Linked DNA regions of Homo sapiens. The protein of the gene in region 3 purifies or fractionates together with the protein of the main gene of each other region. This does not show direct contact. Each region holds a gene or a part of one and is shown on either strand. Other genes may lie near its edges. The genes, in order: PRICKLE3, ATP1A1, DYRK4, RLIM, RANBP2, RNF138 and HERC3.

Region 1 (3,500 bases), on a different chromosome or scaffold from region 3:
GGGGGCAGGGGTCGGAGAATGGCAGGGAGGTGGGAAGTCTGGGAAGTGTGAGGCCTGGAGCAGGCTCTGGGTGTTGAGAGGGTTGGAAGGAAGAACACGGAGCAAGATGGGACTGGTGTGGGGGGCGTGGCCAGGGCACCCGGGGTGGCTTCGGATGGAAGAGGTGTGGCATAGGCTGGAGTAGATTTGGTTTGCAATAAAAGGGGTGGGGCCTGACTGCAGAGGATGAAGGGTGACCGGCTGGAGAAGAGGAAGAGGAACTTGGGGTCAAGCAGAGACAAGTTGAGGTAGGGGACCAGCCCTGTATTGACAGGGTGGAACCAGGGTTCATGAGGCGGGTGTAGTTTGGGATGGAAACCAGGCCTGGACTGGTGTGGGGAAGGAGGATGAGCTGAGAAATGGGCGGGGCCCAGGGATACAGCAGGTGAAGGGCCTGGGCTAGTCAAGAAGGAAGGGCCAGGGCTGAGGCAGGGGCAAGGACATAGGGGTGACTGGGCTGTGGCTGGGTGTGGCTAGAGGGTTAGCTCACCTGGCGCTAACTCTGTGCTGGTGCCTTTGGTGGTGGTCTCTGATGCCCCCTTCACAGCAGAGAAAGAGGCTGTGGAGGCTGCAAGTGGGGCTGTGACAGGGCCGGCACTCCAGCTGCGGCGGCTCGGCCCTGGAGCTGTGGGCTCGGACCCAAGGCTGCAGGCTCGAGAGCAGAAGATTAGGCCTCGGCGTGGCAGGAATGGGCGGCCCAGCAGGGCCCGCCCACAGCGACTACAGCAGAAGCAGCGGTCTGAGGCATGCCAGTGCTGGCCCTCGTAAGCCATCTGGCCTTGGTCCAGGCCTGTGGGGAACGACGAGGGGGAAAAACTGAGGCAGAACCCCCAGGCGTAACCCCACCCCTCGTGAACGAGTCCCTTCTCAAGAAGAGGTGGGGAATCCGAGGCAGGGCACCCCTGGGTGCCTTCCTCCCTCCTCCAGAATGGGGCCCTTTTGGAGAAAGCAGGAAACAGGTTTTGGTTCTCTCCTGGAGACTGGCTGGTGAACCTCTCTCTCACTCCTCCCTTTCTTTCCCAGGGTGCTCTCTCCCAGAGCGGGGTGGGCATTGGACTCTAAGATTCGGGCCAGGCTTAGACATTAGGGGGTGGCTCCAAGTGGAAGGAGAATGGAAAGCTGGGCCTGAAGAGGAGGCCTGGCTGGTGGGGGCAGGGCTTAGCAGGTGGGGAGTGGCCCTGTTGAGAAAGGAGTGGTTCTCAGAGGATAGGGTGTAGCTAGAAGCTAGGCCTGACTTAGGCTGATACAGGAGAGTGGAGGAGAACGGGGCACAGCTTGGGGTGGTAGAGGCTAGGAGTAGGGCGAGCCCTGGGGCTGGAATTAGAGCACCCTCTGGAGGTGGGTGTAGACATGTGGTGGTGGCCTAGCATTGTGTTAGGTGGGGTTTAGAAAGCATGGCATAGTGGGGACATTGGGAGTGGGACTTGCAACCAAGCGTACAGGTCTATAGTGTTGGGGCTGGACAAAGTACAGGGCACAATGGAGGATGGGGCCTGGAGGACAGGAGGAGTCCTGGTGGGGTAGGACTGTGGCCCAGCTGTCCATCCATCCCTCTGTCCAGTCCCACAGCATTCACCCACCGATGTGCTCCCCACAGCCATCACAGTACTCCGCGTGGCGGGCCTCGTAGCAGGCGCAGCAGTGGGGGCGGCTCTGACGCATGACATAGCGCTGCCCTCCTAGTGAAGCTTCACACTCAAAGCAGCAGAAGTGATCCATGTGCCAGTGGCGGCCCTCAGCCTCCGTGCACTCAGGGGAGAAGATGATCTGGAGGGCGCAGGCCATCTGTGGCTGTCAGATGAGCCTGCTCCTGGCCCTGCCCACCCTCAACTCCCACCCCTGGGCAGGGAGGCCCAAACCTCGTCACAGGCTTGGCAGCGTGGACGCAGGCATTCGGCATGGTGACGCCCGCAGTAGACCTTGCCAACATGGTAGAAGTAGATGAGGTCAACCAGCAGTTCCTGGCACGTGGTACACACGAAGCACTGTGGGTGCCAGCAGGCACCCAGGCCTGCACGGCTGGCAAACACTGCGATGTCCCCACCTCCAATCTGCTTTCCGCACTGCCATGAGACAAGCACCAAGATGGTTACCATCACTGTCACCAAGATGGTCAGATGGATGGGGTCAGCCAAAGTATGTTACACTTGGGCCTTTCCCACAGTGAAACTTTGTGATCAGCCCCACCCATGGGGTAACTTTGACACAGGCCCTGCCTATACCAGGGATGGGGTTGGGCGGTACCTTAGAGACTGACCCTGCTCATGAGGGAAGCCGTAGAGACAGGCCCTACCCATGGTGGGTGGCCTTATAGGCAAGCCTCCCTCATCAGGGGTGGGGAAGACAGACAGGCCAGGCCTAGTGGGGGAAACCACAGAGATAGTCTCCACCCACCGGGACCTTAGCAATAGATCTCACCTAACAGTAGGATCTAAGGACAGGCCCTGCTTACCACTGGGCCCTGCAGACAGGCCCTGCCACTGTGGGTCAGCTCTTGAGGACAAGTTCTGACCACAGGAGGACCAAAGAGATAGCCCATGCCCCATGTCCACTGCACAGACGGGGAGAAAAACACACTAAGGCCTCCTTACAGACAAACCCCACACGACAGTGGGATTGATGGGACAGGTCCCTGTCCACCAGGGGTTGCCTTAGAGACAGTCCCTGCCCAACAGTGAGATGTGAGGAACAGACCCCGCCCACAAGAGGGGACCCTAGAGACACCTCACTGGGGCTTAAGTGGCAGGCCTCATCTTCCCAGTGCTTGGAAGATGTGTCCTGCTCCCCAGGGCTTGGAGCAGAGGCACTGCTCACTCGCTGAGGCCCTCCACGGCTCACCTCCTCACAGATGGCCCCAGTGATGGTCACCGGGAAGATGCGCACGATGCCACGCCCCAGATTCTCCCGCTTCCGCTGCTGGCTAAAGGCTCGGAGCTCTTTCTTTTCCTCCTCTTCCAGTGCTGTGCAGTACTGTGCCTGGGAGGAGAAGGCATCTCCCAGGCTCCTCCCTTGATGCCTGTCCCTGCCCCTCTTCCAGACTTCATCCATGCCCCGAAAGTTTACTTCTAGGTCTTTCTATAGATGGTGCCTCCTGCCTGAAGTAACCACCTCTTCTTCCAAGGCCCAGCTGTGGTTTTGCCAAGGAATGTCCCCTGATGACCCCTGCCTGTCTGGACCACTCACCTCAGATCAGCTCACCTTTCCTCCTCTGACCCTGCCCTGCATTGGCCCAGGCTGTGTGCTGTGCCTGGCATGCCCTTCCTGTCTTCTCTCTCCTCACCTCACTGTCGTGTGGGGGCAGCTGGTGCAGCAGCTGCTTGATCCTGTATTTCTCCCCAGGACTGTTGACGTAGGGGACCTTGTCCTCTGGGAGGCAGCTGAAAAATTGATATACCTGGGAGGACATAGGAGTGGGAGAAAACAACTGAAATGAGAGGTGAGTTGGGATGCAGTGAGATGGC
Region 2 (3,500 bases), on a different chromosome or scaffold from region 3:
AGAATACTTTTACATACACAATTGTGTTGGATGATTTAATAATGTATCGACCAGGAAAATGAGAAAGCACCCCTCCCCCTTACCTTTTACATTGAAGGTAGCCCAGACTTGGCAGCCTCTAGGGAACCAGCAAGGTCAGAGTCCATCACACAACTTTCCTGCTAAAGTGGTATTTGCCAAATCATGTCCAGAGGTGTTGTTTCTACAATCTTCTTGGCAACTCCGAAATGGGCTGCATTTGGGGCACTTCCTTTTGCCATCCTTCTGGCCCTTCTTGCCCGTCAAAAGCTTTTGTCTGTGGGCTTTGGAAATAGTCCAGTTTTTAAGGTGTTTTATTTTTCAGAGTTAATGGTTTCTTGACTAATCAGACTATGAAAATGCCTTCTCTAGGTTCTTTAATAGTTATACCAAGTGTTATTCCCATTTTAGGAATGAAGAAACTAAGGCTGACAGGCAAAGGTCATGTAGCCAGCATGTGGCAACACTAGAATAAATTGGCAGACTCAACACCATTAGCAGACCTGTCTGGAGGGAATGGTGGGTCTTGAACTTTCAAGTACCCTCTAAACTTTTTCAGCAGGAATTTCAGAAGTCTCAAGAATTCTGAGCTCCCTGCTGGCCATGGGACATTGTGCTGATATGGTGGGAAAAATGCAGGTTGAGAAAGCCTTCGCATCCTGCCCTGTTGGAGGCTGGTGTTTGGGATGGGTATGAAGGCCTTTGGCGGTGGCTATAGCTTATGCAGACCTGAAGCAATATACCTCTGGGATGGAAGATCCTGCTTATTTTGGGATAATTTCTAAATCTGTCATATCTATCCCCAACCCTGTCCCCATTAAATGGCTAATTGCCAAAAAAGAGGAAGCAACATCTTCAGCTCTAGCAAGTCTCGGGGATGTCTCACTCATTGTGAGGACTGTGAGGATTCGGTATATATTTTTAAGTGAGTGAACCTTGTTACATGTTTTAACCTTGGTTCCTCCTGTCAAGAATTTTATCTTCTCATGTCTTGGGCACCTTTTCCCTCTACCCAGATCAAATAGCAAAATGCTTAGTTAATCTTTGAGAGGATAGAATCCATGGGAAGCACAGGATGAAATGATGACGCTGTGCTAAGCTGTGTCACCGTGGGTAAGCCCCTGCCCTTGCTGTGACTTTCCACTTCCTAAATTAGAATGGAAGGGGGAAAAAAAAAAACCATAACCCAACTTCATTTTTATGAGTGGCCCTTTAGAAAATAGTGTAATCCGTTGAGTTTCCATTGTACCTTTCCTCAGAGATGCTCAAAGGGGCGGGGGTGCCCTTACATGGAACATGATGAGAGTGAGGATTAATCACTCCCAGTCCTCTGGGAGGGGGGAAGTGACCTGAACTTTCTAATTGAAAAAGTAGGAAGTGTGTGCCCAATGCCCAGATGAGTGGGAAGATTACTGTAGTTGATTGAGGAAATGCCGTATTTATCATTCACCCTTCCCATGACCTTTGTTTTTCCCTAATGCCTTAAAAAATAATAAGGAAACATTGTCCTACCTGATTCTACCACTGTTCATCTCACGCAGTGTGCACTCCCTGACTCTGAATTTTGCAGCTTTGAGACTGAGGTAATTGAGACTGATAGGGATTTAAGGATATTTGGTTCCCACAAGAATAAGCTAATATTAAGTTATTATTTTACTTGTGGAGAAGAACTAAATTGTATAAGCTGCCTGGTTCTTCTAGACACACATTGCCTAGTGAAAAAATTAAAATTTTGAAGAAAAAGCAGTTTTACTTGTTAATACTTGCCATGTGTCTCACCCACAAATAGCCTCATTTAAAACTTTGCCTTACCTAGCATGAATGGATAAAGAAAAAGGAGAGTTATTAGGGAATCTAAATTCCCAACTAACTTTAGCACTGATAGTGGTGAAGCTATGGGCAAGACATTTATTTTGTAAGTGGGGGTAAAACTTTGGAACGTGTTCAAAGCCTAGCTGCTCTAGTAATCCTCTCTCCTCTTCTGGAGTGGAAGATATTGGAAGTCTGAGAATAAGCAAAGCATGCAGATTATGAAGCTGAGGGGTTATAACTATTTCATTTATTGAAATATATTTCAATGATATTCAACTTGCTCAGAGAGAATCCGTGAGCTGTATTTTAAAAATCAATACAGGCTGGGCACGGTGGCTCACGCCTGTAATCCCAGCACTTTGGGAGGCCGAGGTGGGTGGATCATGAGGTAAGGAGTTCAAGACCAGCCTGGCCAAGATGGTGAAACCCCGTCTCTACTAAAAATACAAAAATTAGCCAGGCGTGGTGGCGAGCGCCTATAATCCCAGCTACTCAGGAGGCTGAAGCAGGGAATTGCTTGAACCCTTGGGCGGAGGTTGCAGTGAGCTTAGATTGCGCCACTGCACTCCAGCCTGGGCGACAGAGTGAGACTCCATCCCCAAAAAAAAGAAAATTAATACAAAGTGGTCACATAAATCTTTTAGAGATCCTTAGTCAATGTCTTTAAAATGTTTTTTAAGTGTTGTGCTTTCTCATTAAAGGTATGATATACCTTTAATTAAAGCTAAAGATATACCACTTTAGCTGTGGTTCCTTTCTGGTAGATGACCTGCCTTTTCCTTTTTGTTTTATTTGTCCACTTGTATGTGTTACTATTTTTCATTTAAACTCTGGCACCAAGAGCTGTACCGAAAGAGGCACCAACAAATGTGGTTGCTCCATAATGGAGAGAATGTCAAGAATGTTGACTATCTTTAGACCTGCTTCATTAATAGATAAGATAGAAACTAAAGAACCCACCCAGTTGGAAGAAGTTATTAGTCAAGTAGTGCTGCACACGTGACCACAGAAGTTAAAAAGGTAAATAATGTGTCTCTACATGTGGCCCACTCCAGTGAATTTGGAGAAGGATTTCTCCTTGGAGTCTTAAGAGGATATTTTTAAATTTAAGTGAACAATGTATTTTATTTGCAACTATTAGTTATGACTGAAACACACATAATACGTTTTGATTTTCTTTTTTCATTTCAGCACAGTGAAATTATAATCTGGACACGAGTTCCTAATTATTGCTTTAGTAGCTGGTAATGCACTTAGGAAAGTTAGAAATGAGTAAAGGAGAACCACAAAATAATAGTAATAGCACCATATGTCATGCATTTTAAGAAAATTGCTAATGTCTACTTTTTGGCCTTAAGTTGTAGTTGTGGGAGGCTGCTTCAGGGGGAGGTGTCTGGAACAAGGGGCTCTTCTGCTCCGCTAAGCTTTGGAGCACCAAGTTCAGGCTTTGTGTAGATAAGCTCAAGGATTTTTCAACAGGGGTGGGGGAGTGGAACAATCTAAATTTAAACTATAGAATCAACATTTTCTTTAAAAATTGTTCCAGTTTTCAAGAGGCGTAGGTGGATCCTGTGAATTATGTGATAATGCACACGCTTTTCCTACATCCTGCTTATGTCAAAACATTTCCAGAGACTTTCATTTTGGAGGTTTTATTTTCAGGCTACAGA
Region 3 (3,500 bases):
CATTTGAATTCCTGGATCCTGCTGCGCCTGAAACTACATCTACCTTTTCTGATGCCCCAATTATGTAAGTCAATAAGTGTCTTCCGTTGTTTAAACTGCTTTTGAATTCAGCTTCTATCATTTTCAAACAAAAATCCTGACATAGGTTGGCAGTCATGGGCAAGAAGAAAAAAAATTTCTTTTGTTTGGAGTTCCATTAATGATGCTGTAACACTGAGAGTTCAAAACTACCCGCCCCCTCTACACACACAGATGCATATGGAATGAGTTTAAGTGCAAGGACATCCTCCCCCATCCCTCATAAGAGGAGTCATGCCAATTGGCCATGTTAATAGAGTTTTTTAACATAAAGTTTTATGTATTTAAAAAAAACAGTCTGAAGTATTGTACAATATAAGTGCTGTCTTAATACAAATCACTGGTGGAAAGGAGCAGGACATACCCTCAGCAAAGGTCATACAATAGGGGGTAAAACGTTTGTGTTCTTGAGGGAGAAGTTTTTGCTCTGTCCTGGGGAGGTCATGGACACCTCCGCCCCGACAGCTGCCTCTGACTTCTTGGGAGCGTCTACCAGTTGAGGCAGCTGAACAGTGTCAGCTCCGTGCTGGAGACAGTCCTGCTGATCACCTGAATGCTGAACATGCTTCGTGGGGCTATCTTTTGTTTTCTCTGTAGTCTCTTTGGTGATCTCATCTGCTAAAGGAGAGAGAAGACAGAAGGGAACAAGATTCAAATGTGGATTATATGTTAATTGTCCTTTAGGTTGTACATCACTTAGTGGAAACGATGACCGTGATGATATAAAAACAGTTCATTTGTAAAGCACCTCCAATGTGCCGGGCATTATTCTAAGCACTGTACATTTACTAATTCGTCTGATCATTTCAGCGACCCTGGAGAACAGGCTTTATTCTCATTCTCATAAATGGAGATACTGAGCTACAGAGAGGTTAAGTCCACACCTGATAAGTGGTAGAACCAGAATTTAATCCCCAGGTAACCTGACTCTTGTGACCATGTACCTAACCACTAGGCTATATTGCATATAAAAATTTGCATAATGCCATAATCTGGCACTGACAGAAATTCTAAAGGTAATTATAGGGCATAAAGGGGTGGACGCAGTTAATGAAAAAGGGAGGAGGAGAAAGGAAATTGATTATAGGAGAAAAATGGAAAATCCTAATAAGGGGCAAAAAAGATCCAGGCTAATGCCAAATTTCCCTGAAAAGGAAAATCCCAAAGGTAAGAAATGGCAGGCTAGTCATGATGTAGCCACAAGAATTATCCCAGGTTGAGGTTAGAGAAATTGACATGCAAATCCTTCAGAAATGCTTAAACAGCATATTAAACAGAATATTAAAAACAAAGATTTTAATTTCCAGACTACAGAACTGGGGCTTCAAAAATATCACAAGGAGATTTACAGAATTCTAGAATATTAATTCCCGGACTGTGGGACTAGGACTGGTTATTTGACAGGCTGTACCTTTTCTGCTCGAGTGATGACAGCCTTGAACCTTGTCCTTCCTTGTCTCAGAGGGGAAAAAGGAATTGGATTTCCTCAGGGTCTGGGGCCTGGGCTGTGGCTTGAGGTTCCGAGACTGATGAATCCAAGCATGCTTGAGGGCCTGGTCCGGGGTCATGCGAAGAGAAGGTTCCCATCTGCACCCCAACAAAGCCCCACATGGGTTATTGTTTTATTTCCTTTTAATATATTAAAACATTTTTAAAACCCAATAAAGATTTTTATTTAAGCTATGTTGATATCTCAAAGATATATAATCATAGAACAGAGATTATGGCATATAACTTAAAAGTACCTGGAAACAACTAATGGAAATAATCTTTTTAGAAGATGTGTATAACAAGCCAGGGAATATATATTACAGTCCAAGTCTTCCAGCATTCCTAGAAATTTCCTTATAAGAAATATTATTTTACAAAAGCTTAATCAATAGGATTTAGGGTTTGGTAAGCTAAGAATATTAAAACAAAGATTTCAATTTCCAGACTACAGAATTGGGGCTTCAAAAATATTGCAAGGAGATTTACAGAATTCTAGAATATTAAGATTTGCAAGGGGACTTGGATATAATCCAATCAAACTTGTAATACAGTAGCAGAATACATTGACTGAACTACCATCATGGAATCACCCTGCAATTCTTGAGTAATTTCAGTGACAAGATACTAACTCACAGAACCATCTATTCCAATTCTGAAAAAACTCCGATTCTTTAAAAGTTCTTGACTTTTATTGTGCCAAAACTGGTTTGCTTCCCAGTAACTTTTACCCAGGTCCTAATTCATCAACACATTACCATCACACAAAATAACTATCCTAATTTTATGGTTCAGTCCTTCAACCATCTGAAAATATTTACATCGCTACTAACTAATGATCATATGATATGGTTTTCACCATCTGACCACCTTCTGAAATAAGGATATTTTAGCAGTTGTCTAACTGGTGTCCATCATGGTGGGAATAGCTTCTATAACTGCAGGGAGACAGTATTAACATTCTAGACTCATTAAGGTCCTAAAACAGCTCAAACTCTCATTTCTGTGTCAAATGAATTGCTGTTAAACAACATCTCTCCTTTCCTGGACTTCTGGAGTTCGCCTACAAAGTCTAGACACGGGGCTTTACATTTATGCCTATTGAACTTGGCTCAAAACTTTTAGTCTCAAAGATTTTCTAATTAGCAATATATATATATAAGATAACAGTCCCCATCAGCCTGACTGCCTCTTGCAAGTTATGAGTAATCAGTCCTTTGCACTAAAGAAGAAAATAATGCCTTCCTTGGTGCTGAGCTGTGTTCTGGATGGTTGAGGTTTCTGGATAACCCATCTGTCTCAGCAGTTGGTTTCTGTCATTTGTTAAGGTAGGGGTAAAGATGGGGTACAGGATCCTTCCCTACCTTGATTATTCTGATGAGTGAATAGCATGACCCCCTACGATGGGAATACTTTCATCATTACCTCATGGTTCACCCTCTGAGCTAGTACTGAAATTCCAGAGAGCACAGATGCCAGAAGAGTATTTTGATAACATCACTCCATCCAACTGGAAGAATAAGAGACTGTAATGATATGGTCTTCTAAAAATACTAAATTATAGGACTGATAGAACTGGAAGGGAGCTTAGGAATACCGTATTTTATAGGAAAGAACACTGAGGCCCAGAAAAAAGTGATGACTTGCCAAGTATCACATGGATAATCTACTTGCCACTCTGTGGAGATAGATTTACCTCTTTAATAGTCGTAAAATAATAAGAATAGCTAACGTTTTCTAAACACCTTTTAAACTGGGTGCTGTGCTGGGTACTACGACTTAAGTACAGATCTAATTTCTAAGATTCAAAATATGCATATAGATTATAAAAAGTTGTACATAATAAATGGTTTACAGCTCACCTTCCCCCTAATTCCCTAATATAAGACGATTTGGGTACTAAATCCTAGGGGGAGGGGGACAGGCCCTGAAAC
Region 4 (3,500 bases), on a different chromosome or scaffold from region 3:
AGGTAGAAAAAAAATGCTGACATTCTAAGTATCAAGAAAATGTCAGTTTTCTTTTTATGAGCAGTTACTTAGCACCAAATTAATTTGTGCCAAATCTGGATAATCTTTGGCTGACATTTACTATTACAAAGTTCCTATCATCCCATCGTCTATCCACCTCCCCACCAAAACCAAAACATACCTCTATTTTCATCTGAGTTTTGCGGTGGTGGGCCTTCTTTAATTTGCTGTAGTCGTCTCAGCAACTCTTCCTCAGTACTTTCACCTGAAATTTAACACCACAGGGCAAAGATGACATTAGGGGTATGACAATCAAATACTTTATCAGTGACTCACAGTAATCTGACACAAGATGATTAGAAAAAAAATCATATTTTTAAAAGAGAAAACTTTTTCAAACCAAAAAGAAAAACCAAGGAGTAGGTAGGTCCTGGGAAAAATTCACTTCTTTGGAAACATATTAAAAGCAATTTACAAAGTTCTTTTGCATATAACATCTAACTTTGGCTCACGCCTGTACTCCCAGCACTTTGGGAGGCCGAGGCGGGTGGATCACCGGAGGTCAGGAGTTCGAGACCAGCCTGGCCAACATGATGAAACCCCATCTCTACTAAAAATACAAAAATTAGCCAGACATGGTGGCAGGTGCCTGTAATCCCAGCTGCTTAGGAGACTGAGGCAGGAGAATCGCTTGAGCCCAGGAGGCAGAGGTTGCAGTGAGCAGAGACTGCACCACTGCACTCCAGCCTGGGCGAAAGTGCAAGACTCTGCTTAAAAAAAAAAAAAAAAAAAAAAAGGCAAAGGCAATTCTAAGCTGGGCGCACAGTGGTACCACATCTGTAGTGCCAGCTCGTTGGGAGACTCAGGCGGAAGAATCCCTTGAGTCCAGCCTGGGCAACATGAGACCCTGTCTCAAAAATAAATAAGTAAGTAATTTTTAAGAATTGCAGCTTTGAGAGGAGGATATTGTTATCTGCATTTTAAAATTAAGAAACAGACTGAGCGACAGACTGGCTTGCCAGGAGCCACACCAAACAGCAGGGCCAGAACTCCACCTAAAGCATTCTGATTCAAGCCTGGTATTGTTGGCTAAAAACACACTCCCTCTCTTAAAAGTCATGCTAAAACCTTACCTTTTAAAATCTAAGCAATTACTCAAAGGTAAGTAGAATTAAACAGAAATGAAGAGGAAGACAGATACTGACTTTTAACTAGGATCAAATGGGACTTAGTGGGGTAAAAGATAATTAAGCACAAACTTCTAATTGCTATGTTACCCAAGGCTAGCTCTGGAGGATTACAACTGGGACATATTCAGAAAATCAGAGATAACAGAATAAGTCTTTCCTAAAAACTAAGTTCCCATTAGCTATTCCACACTCGGATTCTTATCTAGTAAGTTAGATAAAGCTAACTAAGAAAAAAAAGATTTAGCTCCATTCTTTTCAATTCAGTTCGCTAAAAATTCATAATTCATAAGTTAAAAATCTCTCTGATATAGTGTAATTCCAAACATCAGTAAATATAATCAGGTAATAAATACAGCAATAAATGTCATTCCATATCCCCTATGTTAAATAATATTTCATAAGGGCTAAAGAAATGGATTTTTAAAACAGGTTCAAGCATTTTTTTTTAAACCAGCAACTTACACTTATAAATCCTTAAATATATGTAAGCATACCTGGGGTGCCTAGCAAATTGTTATCTCTCATAAGCCTATAATCTTCTTCACTCAGGTTATTTACAAATTGATAGAAAGCTTCTTCTCGATCCAATCGGTCCATCTGACTTCTGCGCTGTGCTGCAGACTGATCACCACTTCCTTTGTCATTGGAATCTGAGTTTTCCATATTGATGAACAAGTGGAAAATACCTGAAAAGAGAAAAGAGACTAATCTTGAAAATAAAGGTCACTATGTATTCTATACAAGTTTTAATTATGTGAAAATCCAGAATGTAGGTCTAGAGATGGATTTTCAGACCTCAAATGAAATTTCCTAACAAAAACTCCTGAAAAGCACTGTTATATTAAGAGTAGGTCAAGGGTTGGCAAACTACAGCCCTTGAACCAGACAGGGTTGGCGAACTAAAGCCCTTGGGCCAAATCCAGCCATACTGTGGTATTTTTTGTTTTTTGAGATGGAGTCTCGCTCTCTCAACCAGGCTAGAGTGTAGTGGTGCGATCTCAGCTCACTGCAACCTCCACCTCCTGGGTTCAAGTGATTCTCTGCCTCAGCCTCCCGAAGTAGCTGGGACGACAGGCACCTGCCACCACGCCCAGCTAATTTTTGTATTTTTAGTAGAGACAGGGTTTCACCATGTTGGCCCAATCTGGTCTCAACCTCCTGAGCTCAAGTGACCTGCCCTCCTCAGCCTCCCAAAGTGCTGGGATTACAGGCATGAGCCACCGCACCCAGCCTCGTGCTGCATATTTTTATTCTCCTTGCAACCTAAGAATGGTTTTTAGAGACTATCTTGTGACATATGAAAATGCAATGAAATTCACATTTTAGTGTTCATAAAGTTTTATTGGAACGCAGCCATACACATTCATTTACATGTTATCTATGGCTGCTTCTGTGCTATAATGGCAGAGTTGAGCAGTTGTGACAGACTGTATGTGGCACTCCCATTGCTTTGGACTGCTGCTCTGTGCACTCTTAAGTTGCAGTGATGTAGCTATAATGACAGCATTTCAAGTGCCTTCACACTGGACATTAAAAAAAACTGAGTATACACTCATCATCTCAAACAAAGAGAAAAGTGGACTCTGAATGTCACGCTTAAAGGTGCAGCAGAGGATGGGTTTTTCAAAAATCAGATTAGATGGCAAAGAATGCATGATTATGCAAAAAATACTATATACTAAATACAATATATACTGACACTATTAAACACTAGTGACAATATTCCCAATTCACAGGAAAACTACAGTTCAAAAAGTTAGAAAATTTAAAGTGAAATCTCATCACAAAATATTTCTTCACAAAAATAAAAATGAGGCTTCAATCAAAGTAAATTTCCCAGGGGCTCATTTATTGGCTAAACGAGGAAAGCTGTTTATTGATGGTGAGTTAGTGAAATTATGTTTGAGTGCAGAAGCTGAAGAAATGTGTCCAGAGAAAATAAACATAATATTGGACTTTTGGTAAGTATAGTGGTCCAAAAAGCTGGGAATATTGAAAAGCAATGTCACTAATCAACTGAAAAATAAGGTAAATGATGGAGTGGTTTTCTCTTTGGCTCTTGATTTGTTGACAAATGTAACTGATACTACTTAAGTTATTGTTTATTCAAAGAGCCAAGTGTTGATTATTCAAGGAGTTTGAACTGCAGAAGTAGCCCCTATGTGTAGTCTACATGAAATAATCATAGGTGAGAATATTTTCAAAGTTGAGAAAACTAATTCAGCAAAACCTGAAGCAGAATCTCATAATAAGATATGTTACTACTGGAATGGTAAAAATATATATGGAATGGAAAAAGACCTAGTTGGA
Region 5 (3,500 bases), on a different chromosome or scaffold from region 3:
TTAAAACCAAAGAAAACAAAAAAAAATTTGTGTTTACTTAATAGTCATTGAAAAGAATTACTATAAATTTCTAGAATTTATAAAGGTTAAAAATTTTAAAGTGTTGCCTAACTATACTTAGCATACAATAGTTTACCAAAATATCCATGCATTTGCAGCAATTGAAAAAAATCTTAAAACATAGGCAAGTATTACTATACATATGAAACTAATCCAAAGCCAACTGTGATTAGTTTCTGTAAGGAAAGTTAACAATTGCCAAGAATGGAAGGTGACTAGAGTTGCATCTAGTTTGCCTATGTTCAAGCATGATACTAAGTAAAATTAAATAACAACTGTGACTCTATAGGTAGCTAACACTATAAAATCTAAGACCATTCATATGGCTAAAAACAACCCATCCCCAGCCACCATCAATGCAAAGGGCAAAAAATTAGAAAGAGAAAAAACTTCTATATGCAACCTGTTCTGAACTTCTGGCTAAAGGAGTTTAATAAAGCAAGCCAGTCATGAAGCATGCCATGTATACCAACTAGTGATAGGGAAACATTCTGAGAGCTATGGTGTCCAATATGGTAGCCTAGCCACATTCTATTAAAACCTCACAAGGTGGCTAGTCCAAATCAAGACGTGCTAACAGTAAGTGTAAACACACACACTGGATTTTGAAGACTTGGTGAAAAACAATAATGTAAAATATCATTAATTTTTATATTAATTAGAAGTTAAAATGATATTTTGGACATAAGTTAAATCAAATCTATCAATAAAGTTACTTTCATCTGTTTCCCTTTTTAACTGTTTCTTTTTATTCTTTTTAATATGGCTACTAGAAAATTTATTTATTTATTTATTTATTTGAGATGCAGTCTTGCTTTGTCACCCAGAGCTGGAGTGCAGTGATGTGATCACAGTTCACTAAAGCCTGGAACTTGTGGGCTCAAGTGATCCCTCTGCCTCAGCCTCCCAAGTAACTGGGATTATAGGCACAAGCCATTGCACCAAATGACAATTTTAAATTACATACACAGGTTATATTTTATTTCTACTGGATGACACTGCTCTGCAGAACCAGTGCCCTTCCTTTTACAATGTTAAATTTGTCCCTCTCCTTCATTATAAACAAAAACTTAGTATCATTTTCTAGCTAGGAGAAATAACAGTACACCGTAAGATACAGATTCTTGTTCCACTTCTGCTATTACTCAGTAAAGACACCTTGGGTAAATCAGATAGCCTCTCTTGGCCTCAGTTTACTCATGTCTAAAGTCTTCATTTCTAAGGTCCCTTGGGACAATGACATTATCAGATTCAAAACAAAATAAGGCTCTATGTTCTACAGTAGTATATAGGCACATTCATTCTTAGGTCAGGGATTCCTAACCTAGAGCTCACAGAAACTGTACGCAAGTATACATCCACTTTTAAGTTAACACTTTTCACATTTCTCAAAGACCGTATCTTTAAAAATAAAAGATTAAGAGCTACCTTAGCTAGTAATAAAACTGGTATACTTAAAAAAAAAAATCAGAGATTGCTACTTTATCATTGTACTTGTTTGGCATGGCTAAGATGTGTTACTGGTCACTAAGGGTGAGATTTCACTTCCCTAACCTGTTCTTGAAGGCCTTCAACAGATCCCACTTCTTGTTCCACTCTAGTAGCCACACTTCTAAAATTGATCGGTGCAACATATATAATATGCAAGCTGTAGAATGCTGGCTGTTAAAAACGGGGTCCATTTTCAAATACAACATTTTTCTAAACCATGCACAAAAGAACAGCCCTACAGGGACACTCTTCCATATTGTATACATGCCGTTGCCACTACATTTGAATACTGGCAGACGTTAGTGGCTAAACATAAACATTAGATAAAACATAGGTCTTCATTGAGCAGACCTGAAATAGCAGAGCAATGAAGTACATTACAAATCAGCATCCCAGTACATTTTAAAAAACAAACCAACAAGGGTGTCATGCCACCAGTCAAAAGGTACTTTGCTTAAACTGGCATTCTTTAACATGCATGTTGTAGTGGTAAGTACTTCATTTCATACAGCCACAGTTATTAATACTTTGCTAAGGGCTACCCAGCTGCTAAAAACTGCTGTTATCTCATACTGAGAATGCTAGTTCTATACCTTTGCTCTCAGGCTGTGAGGAAGGGGTGCTAGTCCAAAAGGCCATGGGATTAGATTTAAAAAGGCTAAAATTAAATCCTAGAAAATAAAGAATATTTCGTTTTTTAACATTTTAGGAAACAAAATGAATATGCTTTTAAAACATAAAAAGCCAGAATCCCTCAATTTATACCACCAATCTGATTGTCTTACATATTCATTTATCCCTGTAGTTTCATTCTTTGCTCATTTAATACATGAGCAAGACTGACATACAACATATAAAATGAGAACATCTCAATATCACGTTGTTTTTTTTTTTTTGGAGACAAAGTCTCAGTCACTCAGTCAGGCTGGAGTGCAGTGGCATGATTTCAGCTCACTGCTACCTCCATCTCCTGTGCTCAAGTGATCCTCCTGCCTCAGCCTCCTAAGTAGCTGCTAATTATAGGCACGCACCACGACGCCCGGCTCATTTTTGTATTTTCAGTAGAAACAGGGTTTCACCATGCTGGCCAGGCTGGTCTCGAACTCTTGAGCTCAAGTGATCTGCCCACCTCAACCTCCCAAAGTGCTGGCATTCTAGGAGTGAGCCACCGTGCCCAGCCTCAATATCATGTTTTCTGAGTGACAAAAGAAACTGAACAAATGAAAATGAACACTTTAAAAAAAGACTCACGTTAATGTGCATGATTCAAGCATGAGTCCGTATACCGTACCGAGTTCTTTTGCTCTGCCCTAGCATGATAAAAGTATCTTCCAGTTACTGAAATGTCTTAAACTAAGTTCTCTTGCTCTTTGAAACCTCACCGTGAACTTATTAAGGGAGAAAAAAAATTGCTCAAATATTTTGGGGGTGTTCACAAAGCATCATTTATATCCCAACATTAGTATCCTACAAAGAGTCTGCATCAAGCTAAACATTAAAAGAAAGAAAAATTGTGCTTAACTTTAACAACAAAGTACTTACCCTTTTCTGGTGTTTTAAATGTGTAGTTGATTGAAGATTCTTCCGTTGGAAAGGAAGCAAAGAGATTTTTGACTTTGCTATCTGAAGACTGTTCGATATCAGAGTTCTTTGACAGTTCACATTTTTTAGGTTCCACTTTGCTTTCAGATCCACTCTGGGCTACTGAACTAGTTTCACTATTGTTACTTTTCAAAGGTGCATTAAAACTAAATCCAAACAAAGACCCAGTGGCTGAACTGTTGCCGAATGCAAATGGTTTTGATTTTTCACTACTAAAAATGCTTTTAACAGACTCTGAACCAAATACAAACTTTGGAGGAGAAACCACTGCTTTTGGTGTTGTTTCAGATGTGCTAGACACTTCAACTTCTGAAGTTGCATCTGCTACATCATCACCCTGAATAACA
Region 6 (3,500 bases), on a different chromosome or scaffold from region 3:
CATGTGATGCAACGATGGATAACCAAGAAAGAGGCTATAAAAAGAGAGGAAAGGGCCAGATCAGAAAGGGCTTTGGAATAAGGAAGTGTGTGTGTGCGTGCGTGCGTGTGTGTGCGTGTGTGTGTGTTTTAGACGGAGTCTGACTCTGTCGCCCAGGCTAGAGTGCAGTGATGTGCTCTCGGCTCACTGCAACCTCCGTTTCCTAGGGTCAAGTGATTCTCCTGCCTAAGCCTCCCAAGTAGCTGGGACTATAGGCACGCGCCACCACGTCCAGCTAATTTTTGTATTTTTAGTAGAGACAAGGTTTCACCATGATGGCCAGGCTGGTCTTGAACTCCTGACCTCAAGTGATCTGCCCACCTTGGCCTCCCAAAATGCTGGGATTACAGGTGTGAGCCACCGCGCCCAGCCAGAATTTTGTCTTTTATACTTCATTAATATTACTTTGGCGATAGAATGTAAAACAGATTAGAGGATAACTACCAGCTAAAAAGGCTATTATCATAGTTCGAGTGAGAGATGATGAGGGCCTGAGCTAGGGAAGTGACAAGATAAAATAAAAGTACAGATGAGGAATATTGCTATTAGGAATCAAGTGTCTATGACCAAGTGGATCTAAGAAATAAGGGGGAGGAAGGCCTGTCTCCTGATAAGAAAATTTGGTCATTAAAAGCGTGATTACAATCATGTATACTAAGAACTTTACTAAAAGCTGGAGATATGCTCAACAAGACAAACACCATCCCCTCACTTAAGAACAATCTATTGGGTAAAAAAGCAGATAGGAAATTACAATAAAGTAGAAGTACAACAATAAGAAAAACATAGAAATGAAGAAACCCAGAAGGACTAAAAAAAAACTATAAGAGCAACAACTTTCAAACAAATTTCCTTGACACTAACAAGTCAAGTAAAATGAGAACCTGAAGTTTTTTCAGACTAGGCAATCAGAAAATTACTGCAGATCTTTACCAGACAATCACTAAAGGTTTTTACCAGAAATTTCAACTGAGTAGGGAAGACGCCTAATGTAGTATGATCAACATGAAGTGCTTAAGGGCGGTTAAGTTACTAAAAATTAGCAATATGTAAAATGAAAGGCTACTAAAATAAAATATTAGAGACTGCTTAACATACTGTCTCCTGGGAACCTTTCTATAATAGTGGCAATATTGTCTTTCCTTACAGTTACGTATGTGCTTACTACTGAAGTTTTCAAAATTAACAATGCATTGTTTAGGGATACATGCATGGGTGATGATACATAAAGAAAATCAAAGGAATGAATAATCCAAATAAGAGAATAGTGGTTGCATCTAGGAGTGTACGGTTCAAATGGGCAGGAGCTCACATAGAGATCCTGAAGTTTTGAAAAATGTTCTTTCTTGACCTGGGTTAATAGGTAACTGGATGTTAATCATTATTTTTTTAAACCACAAGTGCATTTTGGCCATTTTTCTGTGTAAAATACATTTCATAAAAATGTTTAATGTACATGAATCTGAGATAAGATACAAATCAATCCAAATCTAGTTGTTTAAAAGAAATGAGACTCAAACAGAACTGCACTGCACCTGGTTTCATTTTTACATGACATTTTAGAATAAAAATTTCAAACTCTAAGTCTATCCCTTAGATAGCAAAGAAAAAACAGGTTGTAGTTTGCAAATACATTACTGAAAAGGATTTTCTATAGTTTTTCAAATCATTTCAGTTGCAAAATCAGTAAGAGAAAAATCTCCAACTTATTTTTTACTCAAAAAAATGAAAATTCTTAGAATGATTTTAAATAACATAAGCTGAAGTTCATGAAGTCATCTCCCAGATGAGAGCTTACGTGTGCCAAACAGATTTTAAGGCAAATGCTGTAGTTCTGATACTTGGCAATTCACTTTAAAAACACATGTGCACATACACACACACACATCCCCCCAAATACCTTATCATATAGTTCCCAAAACAATTTCCATTTCAATTATGAAAATTCTGTATTTAGGAATAAGTATTGCTTACCTGTTCCCTACTGAATCTTGAGAGATCTGAAAGTTTGGAATGATAGAAGAAACACCATATTCATCCTGATACTTCTTACAAGATTTGTAATGATGTCTCATGCGATAGAATTTAATCTGTAAATTATTAAAATGTGACTTTTAATTTAAAATAGAACTCGTAAGATTTGAAATAGTGTAAAGAGAGGAAAAAATAAAAGTAACTAAATACTCCATTTAAACAGGAGTTGTATTTTTTTAAAGTAAATGATTTCATCCTTAAGTAGGAGTTAAGAATAGATAATACATTTCTGTTCATTAAATGTAGAGATGGAGAAGAGTCCATCTGTCTATAAATTCACTGCAAAAAACAGCAAATAACTTCACACTTGAAAAGACACTACCAGCAGTAGACAAAAAAATTAAAAGCACTAAGAGGATGCCAGATGCTATTGGGCATGTCTTATTATTTAACTTCTGCAGCCTGGCAGAGTTAGAAAGCACTTAAAAAAAAATTAAGTTCCTGGCTGGGTGCAGTGGCTCGCGCTTGTAATCCCAGCCTTTTGGGAGGCTGGGATGGGTGGACTGCTTGAGTTCAGGGGTTCAAGACCAGCCTGAGCAATATGGCAAAATCCTGTTTATACAAAAAATACAAAAATTAGCCAGGTGTAATCTCAGCTACCTGTGGGGCTGAGGCAGGAGGATTGCTTAGAGCCTGGGAAGTCAAAGCTGCAGTGAGCCGAGATTGTGCCACTGTACTCCAGCCTGGGTGACAAAGTGAGACCCTGTCTCAAAAAAAATTAAGTTGCCAGGAATACTTGGAACATTTTTCAGTTTCTCACTGAGAGGAATAGCCAGAATCTCTCGAGTGTGTTTTCCAGCTTCACGTCATTGCCCTGTCAGTTAAACACTTCCTTCAAAAAGATGTAAAAGCAGATCTGACTTGTGTGAATGCATGAAATAGCAACCAGCTTTGCTCACTGAATTCATTAGCTATTAGAAAAAATGTCGGTGATAAATCTATAGACACATGGATATACTCAAAGCCTAACCACCCCTCTCTATTTTATTCCTTCTCCAAATGATAGAATAAAATCCAGATTAGAGAATTAATGCTGGTTATTTGTTAACACCTGATTTTCCTACATGTTCCTTAAAATTAACCAAATATTTTGTGATTTCTTTCTTCTTCTTTTTTTTTAGACAGCGTTTCGCTCTTGTTGCCCAGTTTGGAGTGCAATGGCGCAATCTCAGCTCACCGCAACCTCTGCCGCCCAGGTTCAAACAATTCTGCCTCAGCCTCCCAAGTAGCTGGGATTATAGGCATGCGCCACCACACCTGGCTGATTTTTTATTTTTAGTAGAGACGGGGTTTCACCATGTTGGTCAGGCTGGTCTCGAACTCCTGACCTCAGGTCATCCACCCACCTTGGCCTCCCATAAGTGCTGGGATTACAGGCATGAGCCACCATGCCCGGCCCTTGTGATTTCTTAAATACATACATAAAT
Region 7 (3,500 bases), on a different chromosome or scaffold from region 3:
GGAGGCATCCTAAGGCATCATATAGGTTACCAGCTCTCCTCTCCTCCCTCTCCATCCCCAGCCCTAACATTCCACCAAGTGCCTCAGGTGATCCAAGGCAGGATAAGCCAGATAGGAAGGGCAGCAGGCCAGGTATATAGAACTAAACTACTGGCTTTACCTGAGGTATTCCAGTTTTCATGTTAAAAGCCCTGCTTAAAATTTAGTGTGGAAAAAATAATAAGACCTTTTCTGCTTAAAATAAAAAGTCTAGGATAACAGTTCTAGGCCATTTTCCTCAGAAACAAATAAAGCTAAACCACTTGATACTTGTATCCTCACCTGTTTTAAAAGGTTCATTTTATAACTCCTTGTTTATAAAACCTTTACCTCTGGGAAGAACCATCTCAAATAAAGGCTCCATCTCACTAATAATCAGGCAAATGCAAATGAAGACGAGTGAATTGTCATTTGCACTCATCAGACTGGCCTAAGTTTAAAAATGAGATTATATCAATATGGTGAAGGTGTGGGGAAAACAGAAACCTCATAGGCAGTTGGTAGGAAGATAAACTGAAATGATGGGAACCATATCGCAACCATGGAAATATATAAAGATCAACCAAATGAGAAGAGCAAAGGCTATTTTTTCAGAGCTGCTATAGCAAGAGAGTCAGCCACTGTCACTTGTGTTGTGGCAGAGACTCAAAATCAAGCAGAGGAGTGGAAAAGCTTTACAGTGGAAAGAGGGAAGGCTTCAGGTACACTCTGATTGGAGGCTGCTAGTCTGGGGAAGCTGCAGGTGGGCTAACTAGAAGTGGGGCATCCTATGTGACTGGTTAAGGGTGTGTATTTGGCTTTCTCTGGTTGGCCCTAAGTTGGAAGTAGGAACAAAAATTAGGGAAGCTGCTGATTATTAATCACATCCTGGCCTATTTGGGCCCACTGTTACAGAAGTTATCGAGACAGATGGCAATCAGGCTGCCTGCAAGTCTGACTTATAGCAGGCTGGCTTCCTGGGCTGCTTATTGCAGATAAGAGGTTGGTTTCCCGGGCAGGTTGCTGCAGATTGTGGGTCTCAGCTCCATGTTTATTTATATATGGCCTGGCCATTGTCCATAGGAATATTCAGTCTCTCACAAGTGGAAATATAAACTGTGAACCTAGACATAAACATTTTGGGGGGAAATTCTGTCAATATCTAGATAAGTTGAAAATGTAAATACCCTTGACCATGCCACTGTGCTAGCGGGTAGGTAATGCAGAGACGCTAACATGTGTGCACAAGAAGATGAGTGCAGGCAAGTTTACTGCAGCATTTTCTTGCAATATAGAGAATTTAGAGAAACAACACTAAACATCCATTAATATGAACATGGACAAGGAAAAGATGGTAGAGTCATATGATGGAAACCATAAAGCAGAGCACTTTGATGGAATTAACTAGATCTAAACTTAGCAAAATGAATAGAATCTCAAGAACAATGCTGAGTGAAAATCAAGTATTTGCATGTTCAGTAAAATATGATGGCATTTATGTAAGTTGTGTTTTAACACTTAAAACAATGCTACTTATAAAAGGTAGTAGCTCTGTCACTCAGAGCTTGTGACCCTTGGGCAAGTTATTTAACTTCTCCATGCCTGTGTCCTCATTTGTAAAATGGGGGAGAGTAAGAGTAGATAACACATGGGACTGCTTTAGGATTAAATGAGTGAATACATGTAAGAGTGCTTAAACCAAGGCTGGTGTATAACAATTACTTTGTAAGTATTAACTAGTATTATCATATTGTTTATGGATATGAGATTTTGCTTATGAGTATGAAATTATAAATATGATGCATACATAAGATGTGTAAGTGTTCATTTTTAAAAACAAAGACATTAATGTAAAAAGATCTTTGTCTAGCCAGGTGCAGTGGCTCATGCCTATAATCCCAGCACTTTGGGAGGCTGAGGCAGGCAGATGGCTTCAGCCCAGAATTCAAAACCAGCCTGGGCAACATGGCAAGACCCAGTCTCCACAAAAAATTAGCCAGGCCTGGTGGTGCATGCCTGTAGTCCCAGCTGCTCAGAAGGCTGAGGTGGGAGAATCACCTGAGCCCAGGAGGTCAAGGCTGCAGTGAGCCATGATCACGCCACTGTACTTCAGCCCGGGTGACAAAGCAAGACCCTATCTCAAAAAAAAAAAAAAAAATCTGTTTTAACATACATGTTTATTATAAAAAGTATAAAAACATAAAAAAAACATATCAAATTCATAAGAGTTTTGTCTGTGTAAGAAAGAAGGGCGGGAAGAGGGGAATGGAATTAAGGGTATGTACAACAGTATCAGTAATTTGGAATTAAGGGTATGTACAGCGGTATCAGTAATTTTTTTCTTTTATTAAAAAATCTGAAGCAAATACCTGTTGACTGTGGATCATATATACAAATGTTTGTCACATTAACTTTTTGTATTTTAGATTAAAAACAATTTTAAAACTTCACATCATGAAGATAGTTATTTACTACTTATCCATCACTGTAATTTAATACTTCATAAAGCTACATTTGAATTATTGGGTTTCCTCCAAGCAGATAGTTTTTACATGTTCACCATCCACACCAATAACTAGCCAACAAATGGTGTAATACAGTGGATAAGTGAGGCAGACAGGGGTTCAAATCCAGGCTCTGCCATCTTCTGTATCTAACTAGTAAGCCTCCCTTTTCCCATTTTTAAAATGGTATAACTGTGCAATCTTTAAAATAAAGCCACTAATGTAAAAAGATTATTGTGCATGTTAATCATTGATGCTGAAAGTTTCTCACACCGTATATAACACCTCACTTCTCTGAAACCCATGACACTAAACTAATGACATTTTTCTGATACAATTACCCAAGAGAAACACCATCACAACAATTTTTATTACAGACTGTGATGGTTAATTTTATAGGTCAACTTGGCTAGGCTATGGCATCCAGTTGTTTGGTCAAACACCAGTCTGGATGTTGTTAAGATATTTTTTTAGTTGGGATGAACATTTAAATTCATTGACTTTGAGTAAAGCAGGTTACCCTCCATAATGTGGGTAGGCCATATCCAATCAGCTGAAGGCCTTAAGAGAAAAAGACTTGAGGTCCTCCAAAGAGGAAAGAATTCTCCCTCCAGACTGTCTTTGGACTCAAGATTTAAATATTAACTATTGCCAGAATTTCTAGCCTTACAGCCTACCCTGCAGATTTCGGGTTTGACAGCCCCCACAATCACATGAACCAATTCTTTAAAATAAATCCCTCCTTGCCCCCACCCCCCTCGGCTTCACACCCTGTTGGTTCTGTTTCTCTGGAGAACACTGACATATAGATTTCGGTACTAAGAAGTACAGTACTACAACAGCAAATACCTAAAAACGCAGATGTGCCTTTGAAATGAGGAAATAGGTAGAGCCTGAAAGAGTTTTGAGGAGCTTGATAGAAAAACCTAGATTTCACTTAAGGGACTATTGGTAGAAATAGCTCAACAGTCTCAGGAA

What was found.
Region 1: the proteins of DYRK4 (region 3) and PRICKLE3 purify together in Homo sapiens (affinity purification with mass spectrometry, with the first as the bait; one large-scale study listed by BioGRID). This does not show direct contact.
Region 2: the proteins of DYRK4 (region 3) and ATP1A1 purify together in Homo sapiens (affinity purification with mass spectrometry; one large-scale study listed by BioGRID and IntAct). This does not show direct contact.
Region 4: the proteins of DYRK4 (region 3) and RLIM purify together in Homo sapiens (affinity purification with mass spectrometry, with the first as the bait; one large-scale study listed by BioGRID). This does not show direct contact.
Region 5: the proteins of DYRK4 (region 3) and RANBP2 purify together in Homo sapiens (affinity purification with mass spectrometry, with the first as the bait; one large-scale study listed by BioGRID). This does not show direct contact.
Region 6: the proteins of DYRK4 (region 3) and RNF138 purify together in Homo sapiens (affinity purification with mass spectrometry, with the first as the bait; one large-scale study listed by BioGRID). This does not show direct contact.
Region 7: the proteins of DYRK4 (region 3) and HERC3 purify together in Homo sapiens (affinity purification with mass spectrometry, with the first as the bait; one large-scale study listed by BioGRID). This does not show direct contact.

What each region holds. Positions count from the first base shown.
Region 1 is NC_000023.11:49,176,374-49,179,873, forward strand, and holds part of PRICKLE3 (prickle planar cell polarity protein 3), read right to left. Parts: intron 3,434-3,500; coding exon 3,320-3,433; intron 3,016-3,319; coding exon 2,878-3,015; intron 2,103-2,877; coding exon 1,899-2,102; intron 1,807-1,898; coding exon 1,620-1,806; intron 830-1,619; coding exon 530-829; intron 1-529. UniProt on the Homo sapiens protein: Involved in the planar cell polarity (PCP) pathway that is essential for the polarization of epithelial cells during morphogenetic processes, including gastrulation and neurulation.
Region 2 is NC_000001.11:116,379,744-116,383,243, forward strand, and holds part of ATP1A1 (sodium/potassium-transporting ATPase subunit alpha-1), read left to right. Parts: intron 1-3,500. UniProt on the Homo sapiens protein: This is the catalytic component of the active enzyme, which catalyzes the hydrolysis of ATP coupled with the exchange of sodium and potassium ions across the plasma membrane.
Region 3 is NC_000012.12:4,610,708-4,614,207, reverse strand, and holds the end of DYRK4 (dual specificity tyrosine-phosphorylation-regulated kinase 4), read right to left. Parts: intron 1,666-3,500; coding exon 1,490-1,665; intron 697-1,489; coding exon of another isoform or gene 694-696; coding exon 455-693; 3' UTR 333-454; downstream 1-332. UniProt on the Homo sapiens protein: Possible non-essential role in spermiogenesis.
Region 4 is NC_000023.11:74,594,125-74,597,624, forward strand, and holds part of RLIM (E3 ubiquitin-protein ligase RLIM), read right to left. Parts: intron 1,877-3,500; 5' UTR 1,854-1,876; coding exon 1,685-1,853; intron 266-1,684; coding exon 182-265; intron 1-181. UniProt on the Homo sapiens protein: E3 ubiquitin-protein ligase.
Region 5 is NC_000002.12:108,767,982-108,771,481, reverse strand, and holds part of RANBP2 (E3 SUMO-protein ligase RanBP2), read right to left. Parts: coding exon 3,094-3,500; intron 2,223-3,093; coding exon of another isoform or gene 2,145-2,222; intron 1-2,144. UniProt on the Homo sapiens protein: E3 SUMO-protein ligase which facilitates SUMO1 and SUMO2 conjugation by UBE2I. Involved in transport factor (Ran-GTP, karyopherin)-mediated protein import via the F-G repeat-containing domain which acts as a docking site for substrates.
Region 6 is NC_000018.10:32,112,374-32,115,873, reverse strand, and holds part of RNF138 (E3 ubiquitin-protein ligase RNF138), read right to left. Parts: intron 2,130-3,500; coding exon 2,014-2,129; intron 1-2,013. UniProt on the Homo sapiens protein: E3 ubiquitin-protein ligase involved in DNA damage response by promoting DNA resection and homologous recombination.
Region 7 is NC_000004.12:88,700,480-88,703,979, reverse strand, and holds part of HERC3 (probable E3 ubiquitin-protein ligase HERC3), read right to left. Parts: intron 1-3,500. UniProt on the Homo sapiens protein: E3 ubiquitin-protein ligase which accepts ubiquitin from an E2 ubiquitin-conjugating enzyme in the form of a thioester and then directly transfers the ubiquitin to targeted substrates.